Homo sapiens: one gene and its partners. The protein of the gene in region 3 interacts with the protein of the main gene of each other region in a pairwise test. Each region holds a gene or a part of one and is shown on either strand. Other genes may lie near its edges.

Evidence for each region.
Region 1: the proteins of CDK11B (region 3) and URM1 interact in a two-hybrid assay, tested with the Homo sapiens proteins (one large-scale study listed by IntAct).
Region 2: the proteins of CDK11B (region 3) and TPPP interact in a two-hybrid assay, tested with the Homo sapiens proteins (one large-scale study listed by BioGRID and IntAct).

Annotation. Positions count from the first base shown.
Region 1 is NC_000009.12:128,384,820-128,388,463, reverse strand, and holds part of URM1 (ubiquitin-related modifier 1), read right to left. Parts: intron 649-3,644; coding exon 567-648; coding exon of another isoform or gene 563-566; exon of another isoform or gene 1-562. UniProt on the Homo sapiens protein: Acts as a sulfur carrier required for 2-thiolation of mcm(5)S(2)U at tRNA wobble positions of cytosolic tRNA(Lys), tRNA(Glu) and tRNA(Gln). Serves as sulfur donor in tRNA 2-thiolation reaction by being thiocarboxylated (-COSH) at its C-terminus by MOCS3.
Region 2 is NC_000005.10:665,825-669,468, forward strand, and holds part of TPPP (tubulin polymerization-promoting protein), read right to left. Parts: exon of another isoform or gene 1,040-3,644; intron 300-1,039; coding exon 146-299; exon of another isoform or gene 117-145; intron 1-116.
Region 3 is NC_000001.11:1,638,361-1,642,004, forward strand, and holds part of CDK11B (cyclin-dependent kinase 11B), read right to left. Parts: intron 3,642-3,644; coding exon 3,546-3,641; intron 3,461-3,545; coding exon 3,302-3,460; intron 2,754-3,301; coding exon 2,688-2,753; intron 2,093-2,687; coding exon 1,917-2,092; intron 231-1,916; coding exon 140-230; intron 1-139. UniProt on the Homo sapiens protein: Plays multiple roles in cell cycle progression, cytokinesis and apoptosis. Involved in pre-mRNA splicing in a kinase activity-dependent manner. Isoform 7 may act as a negative regulator of normal cell cycle progression.

The DNA of each region.
Region 1 (3,644 bases), on a different chromosome or scaffold from region 3:
AACTTCGTGGCAACTGGAACCTGGTCCTTTCCAAGGAGACTGCACTGGGCTTCTATGGGGTGTCCCCAGTGAGTGTGTGTGCATGTGCATGGGTGTGTGCACGCACAGAGTCAATGACTCCTTGGAATTCTAGACCCGTGCTGCACTGTATGGTAATCTACTAGCTGCATGTGGCTATTTAAATTACAATGAAATAAAACAGAATATTTAGCTCTTCAGTTGTACTAGCTACGTTTTTTCCTCAGCACTTTCTGTGTAGAGAGTAACTGAGGCCCAGAGAAGCGAAGTAAGTCGCCTAAGGTCCCACAGCAAGTCTGTGGCAACCAGAGGGCAGAATCCAAGTTTTCTGAGAAATTCACCAGGCTCCTTTCATCTGGGATTTAAAAAATCCTCAAGAGTTCGGTTTAGTAACAAGAAAACTGAAAACAGATCTCAGAGCTGGAAGAGTTAGGGAGGAGGAAGGGGAGAACCGGATTCAGAGAAGGCCAGGACTGAACCCGAGGGTGGGGGCTCAAATATCCGTCCCTCCCTCCACCTGCTTCAGGGAAGGGAGGAGTGGGACTCACACGCTGTCTCCCTGGATGAACAACTCTGGCCGCTCTTTTAGCAAATTCTTCTTGATCCAGATGAGCAGGTTCCGGATGTCCCCTGGAAAGGAATGCACAGAACAAACTCTTGTCAAACCCAAATAGCACCTGCCCACCCCCAGAGCCTTGCCTGGCCCACAAGGAAATACACACGGTGTTTAGAGGGCTTCTTTTAGACCAGGCTGTGATAGCCCATGAACTTGTAGATTCCAAAGGTGAGGAAACAGGTTAGGACAGGCCAGTGACTTGCCAGGTGGATCTTCAGAGAAAGCTGCACCTGGCACTGCTGAAGTCCTGGAGAAGAGGCAATGGGATTTACCTATAGTGGGGGGATTCAAGGCAGACGGCGGGAGGACTGTCGCATCTAAAGGGTTAGGAGACAGGCCCCTACCCACAAGTCCTGGAAGCCAGTCTCCAACTGCCATGGCTGGACTTCTGAGAGGACCTTGAAGAGCCCCCTCCACCTTTATCTCTCCAGCCAGTCGCAGATGGGGAGGATTCGGCTTTGCTCTTGGAGGGGTCTGCATATATTTCCCTTTGTGAGGGGAAAAAAACAATTGCTGAGCTGATAACATCAGTTAATTTCCTCTGGCAGAGGGAGAGAAGGATCATTCACCAGCTAGGGATGCTGACAAATCCCTGCTCCACTCCCCTGCCACCACCCTGTGCTTCCAGAGCCCTCCGCGCCAGCGGTGGCCAGAGGTTCGGGTGACAGGGCCTCTCCAGCTCAGCTAACACTGAGATCTGCCTCCTTGTGGTTCTGGGGGAGCCACCAGCCTCCTTGTATGTCATGTGGAGGCTCAGAGCCACCTGTCTTCAGGGTCACCTGTCCTTTCCTAGGGGCAGCAGTATCGGGCCACAGCACACAGAAATGTGGCTCTATAAACACCTCGAAGCCTATGGTCCTCAACTGTCCGCCCCCGAAACAGGGCCATTCTCCTGAGGCTGAGGAGTTCCTTCTCATTCTCTTAGACGACTTGAGGATAAAGGTCCCAGGGAGACAACTCGCCTCTGGGAAGCCAGCAGACAGGTTGGGGTTAAGCACCCCATCCCGAGTCAGCGTCCAGAGGGGTCTGCTGTCCTGGACTAATGCCTGAGACAAAGCTCAGGGCTAAGCTGGAGAAGTCCCAGGTGAGGCCTTGATTTTCCTGCCTGGAGTCCAGAGTGTACGCAAGGGAAAGGTGGCTAGGACTCAGGGAGACTTTGCTCTGCCCTGTCTGGGCCCACAGTGTGGCACGCACACACGGCCCCAGCCTTGGGCAGGGAGTTAAGGCACGCTGGCTGGCACGCGTGCCCCCTCGCTCTGACAGGCCTGCAGCCTGGATGGTCCACTTTGCTTGGTGCCAACTTGCCTGGATCGTACGCCAGCAAAGCACAGGGCCACGGGCAAAGTGTCCATGGACTGAGACTGCCGCCTTTCCATTTTAATGTCTCCTTTTAAACAAAGCAGATCAGAGTCTTCACGGTCCCTGGAGCAGGCATGGGATGGGGAAAATGCTGCCTCCAACTAGCTGCAGCTCACTTGGACTCCTGGCTGGGTTCCTCCCTGAGGTCTGGGTTTCAGAGGTTTCCCCTTGGCTCTGAATCCCCTTGGCCTCCATCTTGGTACTGTCTGGTGGGCCGCCAACCCATACATCTTGTGGCTGCTCGATAGAGCCACCGGGGTCTGACACATCCATCAGCCAGCCCTAGCGGGCGGGGGTGTGCCTGTGTGTGTGGAGGCGGCGAGAAGGTCTGGGCAGTGCCTGGCCTGCATGGAACCAGGACTCAATTAGGGGACAGCCCTGACTCCCTCCAAAGGGAAGGTGCTTCTGCTCCACTCTGGATAGGCCTGGGGGTGGGGGAAGGGCTAGTGGTCATGGTGGAGTCATCCAAACGATGGCACCAGCATGGAGTCCCAGAGGGACAAGCTGGGGGATGAGTCTGCTGCCCAGTGCGGGCTCATTTATCATGATGCTCCTATTTGCTGAGGTCACTCCCTCCCTCTTCTGCCCGCCCCCCACCCAGGCCTGCCCACATTTTTGATAGCCTGTTACCATGGTGAGGCTACCGCATCGCCACTCGTATTGTTCCCCCATGCCTGGATTTGGGGGTGGGGAGAGGGGGAACTCATGGCTCCCTTCGCAGGATGCAAGGGCCACTCGGCCTGGCCTGAAACACACCCCCAGGGACATCTTGCTAGGCTTGCTGAGGCACAGACAATATGCAAATAGCCTCCAAGCCAGATGGTCGGCTTCCAAAGGCGCCCAGGGGAGGAGGAAGGGTTAAGCAGAGTCAGGGGCTGGTGGCTTGGGGATGGATGGCTCTGTGATAGATAGGGGCTGGAGACTCTCACTTTCACCTTCCCACTCTGTGTCCTCTTGTCTTCCCTCTCCTACTAGGGGCGGTCTCCCTCCTGGGATCCCGTGTGATCATGCAGGAGAAAAATATTTATTGAGCAGCTACTATGTGCAAGATGCTAGGGAGATGGTAGTGGGCAAGAGGGAAACAGAGCTACCTACCCTCAGGGAGCTAGAGGTCAGCAGGGGAGACATACCATACTTAATTAGTTGTGACAAATGCTATCTCCTTCATCTGGGATCAGGAGAGGCCTGACTGAGGGTGTTAAACAGTGAAGCTCGGGTCTGAAGGATGAGTGGGGTGGGGAGCATTCTGGACAGAAGGATAACACATGGGAAGGCTGGGGCAGGATGGAATGGGCAGGTTCAAGGCAGCAGAACAGAGAAGGTAAGAAGCTCAGCAGGAGATGGGGCCAGGCCTTGAGAACGGGCCTGCTCCCGTAGGGGCCTCTCCCTCCCAGTGAACCTCAGCGGTATCTCCCAGGTATGTGCTTCCTGGGAACCAGGCCCCACTGCCCAGGCCTGTGCTTCCATGTGTCTCTGACTCAACACTTGAATCACGATCCAGCTCAAATGTATGGCACTACCATTACCATTACTTGAGTGGACAACTGGGGAGGTAGGGAGGGAAGGAGGGAGGAAGAAAGAGACTAAGAGTATGGACCCTGGAGTCAGACAGGCCTGGTTTTGAGCTGGACTCCATCACTTACTAGTTCTA
Region 2 (3,644 bases), on a different chromosome or scaffold from region 3:
CTCCTGACCACGCCTCCCAGGACCCCCCCCAGGTCACGCCCCCAATCCATGTCCCTCCTGACCACCCCTCCCCCAGGCACCACCCACCTTCCAGGCCCCGCCCCCACCCCCTCCAGGCCCCGCCTTCCATCCCCGCCCTGCTCACCGTCACCCCTGAGATGATGGGCGCCTTGCCCTCGATGAGCCTGTGCACCTCGCGAACGGCCTCCTCGCTGCTCTTGTCTTTGAATCGCTTCTTGGCGAGCTCCTCCAGCGCCTCCTGGAACTGCTCAAAGGTGATGGTCCGGCAAGACTTCCCTCTACAGGGGCACAGGCGACTTAGGGCTGGGCGCGGGCCGGCCCAGGGCTGCCCTCCCCACGCGTGGGTCTGAGCAGAGCTGGACAGCCATGGCCCAGCAGCCCACAGGCTTCACCCACAGGCGGCCGCCCTGGTAGCACTGCAAATCCAAACTGTCTTGGAAGAAAGCTTGGCGGAAGCAGGTCCTCTATAAAGCTGGATGCTCACACGGCCCTGCAGGCCGCTCTGACACAGGGTGTGTGCGGGTCTGCACTCTGCTGGGGCAGTGCCGGAGGCCATTAGGCAGCGGAGCCCACCTCCTCCTCCCGGGGCCACCACAGCCCCGCCCAGCTGCGCCGGGAGCTGGGGGTCCTAGGACCTGCTGGGGCCCCGGCTCTGCCTGTGTGTGTTGGGGTCCTAGGTGGAGGTGTCCCCCACACAGGAACATGGTTAGGAGGGGCTGCCGCCCCCGGACACTTGGCAGCATGGGCGCAGGCCCACGCCTCAGATGCCCTGGCTCCAAAACCCGCCAGGCGGCCCCGCTGTGCCCTTGCACTGCTCTGGCCTCAGAGGTGCAGAGCCCGGTGGGCCGGAGGTGCCATGAGAAGCTTCTGGTCACACAACACGCCACATCTAAACACAGTCCACGCCTTACAACATCCTCCCACCACAGGCCATTCAGGCAATTTTAGAGGGTTCTAAACTGACTCTTGGTTTTTATATAATAATTCTAATTAGAAAACATTTTTCTCCTCTGACCAGATCTACCACAACTAACCCAAAGTGGGGTTTTTCAGTGTTTAAAACAAGAGATCCTGTGGATGAGGCTCAGCTCTGCAAAAGGCACCTGCATTTCACCAGGGAAGCCTCTGGACAGCGCGAGAAAGGCTGCACCCAGCAGGCCAAGCATTCCGAGGGCACTCCCAGCTGCAGAATCCACAGTGACCAAGAGTCAGGGGACAAATGACCCATAAAACCCCAGCAAGCCTTTCCAGAAGTCAGTGAGCAGAGGGCCTAGAATAGCCAAAACGATTTCAAGAAATGAGAACAGAGTCAGAAGACTGACTACCCAACTCCAAAGCTCATCGAGGCTTGACTGCAAAGTGGCAGCGACGTGGGCACGGGCACGCGGCCAGCCCCGCAGCCCAGGGGGAGTCTGGCTCAGCCACATGCATGCTGCCCCCCCGATGTCTACAGGTGCAGAGGCAAGCCAGAGAGAAAGGACTGTTTCTTCCACAAGTGGAGCTGGAGCAACTGGTGATCCCTGTGCAAATTAAAATGCACTTTGGTCTATACTGCACACTATATACAAAACTAACTCAAAATAGATGACGGTCCTAATTATGAAACTAAAACTTCTAGAAGAACACCAAAGAGAAGATCTCTGTGACCTGGGGTTAGGCGAAGATTTCTTAGAAATGGCAACAAAACATGGCCTATAGTGGAAAAAATGGATGAACTAGACTTCATCAAAACGTTCGAAACTCTGCTCTCAGAAGACACCGTTAAGGGAATGAGAAGACAAGCCACAGACTAGGAGACATGCCTGAGAAAGGACTTGTCTCTGAGATACACAAAGGAACCTTAAAACTCAGCAGTAAGAAAAAAAATCCATGTGAAAAGACGGGCAGAATATTTGAAGCAGACACCACCAGAGAAGACACGTGCATGCAGACAAGCACACGGAGAGGGGTCCGCGTGGGCCCCATCAGGGAAGTACAGACAAGCACACGGAGAGGGGTCCGCGTGGGCGCCGTCAGGGAAGTACCGACAAGCACACAGAGAGGGGGCCGTGTGGGCGCCGTCAGGGAAGTACCGACAAGCACACAGAGAGGGGGCCGTGTGGGCGCCGTCAGGGAAGTGCGGACAAGCACACAGAGAGGGGGCCGTGTGGGCGCCGTCAGGGAAGTACCGACAAGCACACAGAGAGGGGGCCGTGTGGGCGCCGTCAGGGAAGTACCGACAAGCACACTGGAGAGGGGTCCGCGTGGGCCCCATCAGGGAAGTACCGACAAGCACACGGAGAGGGGTCCGCGTGGGCCCCGTCAGGGAAGTACCGACAAGCACACGGAGAGGGGTCCGCGTGGGCGCCGTCAGGGAAGTACCGACAAGCACACAGAGAGGGGGCCGTGTGGGCGCCGTCAGGGAAGTGCGGACAAGCACACGGAGAGGGGTCCGCGTGGGCGCCGTCAGGGAAGTACCGACAAGCACACAGAGAGGGGGCCGTGTGGGCGCCGTCAGGGAAGTGCGGACAAGCACACTGGAGAGGGGTCCGCGTGGGCCTCGTCAGGGAAGTACCGACAAGCACACAGAGAGGGGGCCGCGTGGGCGCCGTCAGGGAAGTGCGGACAAGCACACGGAGAGGGGGCCGCGTGGGCGCCGTCAGGGAAGTGCAGATGGAAACCACAGCGAGGCCCCTGCACACTCTCCAGGGGGCTCAGACAATCAAATAAACTGCCGGCACCTCGAGCTGAGCAGGCCGCGGGGTGGGGGCCTCGTCCACACCCGGCCGAGCAACGCGGCAGAGCCACTGTGGACAGCTTCTCATCACAGCCAAAGGTGGCCCAGCAGTCCCGTTCCTGGGTCCTTGCTCAAGAGAAATGAAAACAGAGGCTCACACATAAACGCAAATGTTTACCACTGTTCTGCTCGTAGTCACCAAACCCCAAACAATCCAGTGCCCTTCAGCAGCGGCCAGACCACAGTGCTGTGATGTGTGCGCACGTGGACAGCACCCCCACCCCTCGAGAACAAGCCCAGGATACGCACCCAACGCGGTGGGTGCCAAGTGGCCAGGCTTGGAGCCAGGCACGGAGGTGCCGCTGGGTGATTCCCAGACCCCAAGGCGGATGCTGTGTTTAAACAGCACCTGAGGGTTCCCATACACTTTACACGCGTGTCCTAAAGACACAACAGACACCATCAACAGCGCTGAGCCAAAGAAGAAATCGCGCTGAGAAACACACCAAGTGCTCGGGGTCCCACAGCTCAGACCCTCACGCCTCATGGGGTCCCAGGGAGGGGAGCGGAGGCCTCGCTGTGTCCGGAGGGGGCTTTGGGGAGACAGAGCCCCAGGGCGGGGCCTGGACTGCTGAGGGCAGCCACGCAGGGCACATTCCAGACCCGCCGGCCATAGGGCGCTGTTGTCCAGCAGCATCCCCCAGGGGGCGCTGGTGAGCCCGGTGAGCCGGAGGTGCCCTGGGCAGCTCTGTGGCGTGGGGGTCCGCGGTGTTGGGGGTGGATTTAGCCCCTTGACGCGCTCGGCGTGGACACCCGCACGTTCCCTGTGGTGCTAGAAGAGCCAGGCCACCCCAGGCAGCCCACAGTGCCTGGAACTGACAGTGCCCATTGGGCCCTGTGGGGGTGT
Region 3 (3,644 bases):
TCTGGCTTCTAGAGGTGCTGAGGGGTCCAACCTCCAGTAGCTGCTCAGGTGAGGCGGGCCCAGGTGCAGTCGCAGCTCTCGGGCAGCCAGCCCCTGCCCCACTTCCCCTGCCTTTGTGGGGTGAGGGGACCCCACCCACCTGTTTTCTTGTCTTTTGCTCTGTAGACCACTCCATAGGTGCCCTCCTCGATCCTGTTCAGGCACTGGAACTCCTCGACGCTCCGGCAGCCCTGGGAAGGAAGCGCCTGTGTGAGGTCTCAGTGGCCATGCCAGCTGGAGGGAGGGCGGCTGCGTCCACAGGCACGGCACACCCGGCACGGGGCAGGTGCAGGGCAGAGCCTTGGGACTGGGCCGGGGGTGGAGCCGGGAGCAGCTCAGTTCTTTCAAAGTCTCTTTCCTTGCAAAACCATCTGACACTTTATTATGAAACAAAACCAGTGTGAACAAAAGGCCATCCCAGCCAGGTGCAAGGGCTCAGGCCTGTAATTCCAGCACTTTGGGAGGGCAAGGCAGGAGGACTGCTTGAGCCCAGGAGTTCAAGACCAGCCCGGCCAACATAGCAACACTCTGTTTTCTATTTTTTTTTTTTTTTTTTTTTGAGACGGAGTCTCGCTCTGTCACCCAGGCTGGAGTGCAATGGTGAGATCTCGGCTCACTGCAACCTCCACCTCCTGGGTTCAGGCGATTCTCCTGCCTCAGCCTCCCTAGTAGCTGGGAGTATAGGTACGCACCACCACGCCAGGCTAATTTTTGTATTTTTAGTAGAGACAGGATTTCACCATATTGGCCAGGCTGGTCTCGAACTCCTGACCTCTGATCCGCCCACCGCCTCGGCCTCCAAAAGTGCTGGGATTACAGGTGTGAGCCACTGTGCCCGGTCAAAACTCCTTTCTACAAAATAAAAAAATTAGCCAGGCATGGTGGCTTGCGCCTGTAGTTCCAGCTACTCAGGAGGCTGAAATGGGAGGATTGTTTGAGCCTGGGAGGGGGAGGCTCCAGTGAGCTATGATTAAGCCACTCCACTCCGGCCTGGGTGACAGAGACAGACCCAGTCTCCAAAAAAAAAGCCATCCCAAGAGTCTCTTTGTCAAACTGGATGTGTCCCCTGCTTGTACCAGGATGACACTGAGGACGGGCCCTACCTGCCAGGCGCAGCATGATGCCCCATGCCAGGGCACCTACCCCTCCGTGTACCTTGGGGCCGGTGCCCAGGCCGGATGTCATGTACTCGGGGTGGCCTGTGGCCCGACGCCTACGCTCAGCAGCACTAAGGGGCAGAGGCGCTCACAAGGCATAGGGCAGTCGACAGAGGCCTGCTGCATGCGCCAGAGAGAACCTCTCCGCCCACAGGCACCAAGGAGGGGGCCGAGTCCCTGCCGGTCTCCCAGGCCCCAGAGGCCACTGGCACCTTCTCAGGCTTGTCCCTTCCAAATCGCTCCCAACAATATCCTGCCTTATTGATAGCTGCCTAAGCAAAAGGCTTCTGGTCACACATCTACACTGACTCCCGTAGCCGCTCCCCCATCCAAGCCCTGCACAGATGCCGGTAACAAGGCCTTGGTGCCTACATAACCCGCCCACGCAGGGGTCAAGTGGAAGGCACTGCTCTCCAGTGCGGAGGAGGACGCAACTCGGGCAGCAGTGACAGCAGCGCGGCCGCACGCCCAGGCTGCCTTTCAAGCCGCAGAGCAGTCCTGCGGGCAGCTCCCTGTCCACCCAGTTCCGTCCAGCATGAGAAAGAGGCGGGACCTAGAAGCATGAGGGGCCAGTGGCTGTGCCCGCCCGTCACTGCCCCAGTGGGCCCAGCAGCCCTGTGAGGCGACAGACGCCAACACGGGGGCCAGGCTTCGCTCAGCCCCTGTGGTAACTCCGACTGCCAATGCGGACAGTGGCCCGGGGCGAGGGGAGGGCCTGACCTGCAGGGCCGGCAGGTACTTGGGCAGCTCCTGCTTGAGCTCGATGGGCGACAGGGCAGGGGAGTCGGGCACATAGTCGCCCTCTGTCAGGGCGCTGCTCTGCGGCGTTCCCTCACCCACTTCTTCCTCTGCTTCTTCACTCTCCCCGGAATCTCGGTCGAACCGTGACTCTGGAACTGGAAAAGTTGAACCTAATTACGAAGCTAGGAGTAAGCAAGGATCATGAACCTCCTCCTGCCCCGGGGGCATCAAGCGCGTGGCAGGGCTGCCCCGTGTCCCGCTGGGAGGTGCTGGCGCTGGGCTCTCGTCCCCTGGACACAGGGCACCGAGGCCTAAGAGTGCTGGCAGGCTCGGCTGAGACAGAGCCCGGATGCTGAGCTGGGAGGAGGCGTCGGGTGTCATGTGGGGGACAAGCCCACATCCACGTCCACCAGGCTGAGGACATAACCTCACTGCCTGTCGGAGGCTGGGCCAGGCCTCTGCTCTGCAGGGACAGGCCCGGAGCCACCATCTGACGGGCCTCCCCTGTGGGGAACTGGTCCTGGGCTTCCCAGCTCCTCGGCCCTGCTGGGCACTCAGGACGCCCTTGGTCAGCACTGTGCCTCGCTGAGGAATGCGGGCCCCACCGGCACAGCCTGGAGCGGCCAACGAATCAGGCGGCCTCCCAGACCCTGGCGTGCCCCACGCTGCGCAGGACCGGCTGTCTTAGGAGAGGGCTGCTGCACTCGGAGACAGACAAGGAGGGGGCTCTGTCTCCAGGGAGGTTCTTACCAACCAAGAGGTGGTTTTCATTTTCTCGTTCTTCATCTTCACTCATTTCTTCCTCACTTACTTCTTCTGCAAGAGAAAGGAGGCGTCTGCTCAGACCAGCACCGGGGCGAGTGCTGCCACAGGCAGGATGCGGGCTCCGCTTCAGCTAAGCAACAAGTGTTCCCAAGAATGGATATGCAGGCCGGGCGCGGTGGCTCACGCCTGTAATCCCAGCGCTTTGGGAGGCCAAGGCGGGTGGATCACCTGAGGTCAGGAGTTCGAGACCATCCTGGCCAACGTGGTGAAACCCCGTCTCGACTAAAAATAAAAAAATTATCCGGGCGTGCTGGCGCACACCTGTACTCCCAGCTACTTGGGAGGCTGAGGCGGGAGGATCACTTGAACCCGGGAGGCAGAGGTTGCAGTGAGCCGAGATCATGCCACTGCACTCCAGCCTGGGCAACAGATCAAGATTCCATCTCAAAAAAACAAACAAAAAGAATCGATGTGGAGGTGTCCCGAGAGAGTCCTAGATAGAAGGGAGTTTCAACTCCCCCGCCCGCCAGCTACTTCTCTGCGGTTTCTAACACTATAGTGAAGTCACAACACCTCACATAGTCGTCGCGGTGCCTCACCGGCAGACTGCTCTGATGCCTCCTCAGAGTTGCTGCCGGTCTCCTCCTCCTCCTCTTCCTCTTCCTCCTCCTCCTCCTCTGATTCTTCACTGGTGCTCCCTTCCTCCTCCTCCTCTTCCTCCTCCTCCTCTTCTTCCTCAGAACCTGAGCCTGATTCCGCTGTAGAAAGACAGCAGAGCAGAGGGTGAACCTGGGCCTTCCTGGGCAGCAGTGGTCAAGGCCTTGGCCAGGCGGTTCCAGGTACCTGACGAGGACTCGGCCGAGCTGGTCTTCCTCTCGCTGTCGCTGATGTCCTGTAAGTCGGACAGCAGGTCCCTTTCTTCCATTTTCTCTTCTTTTACTT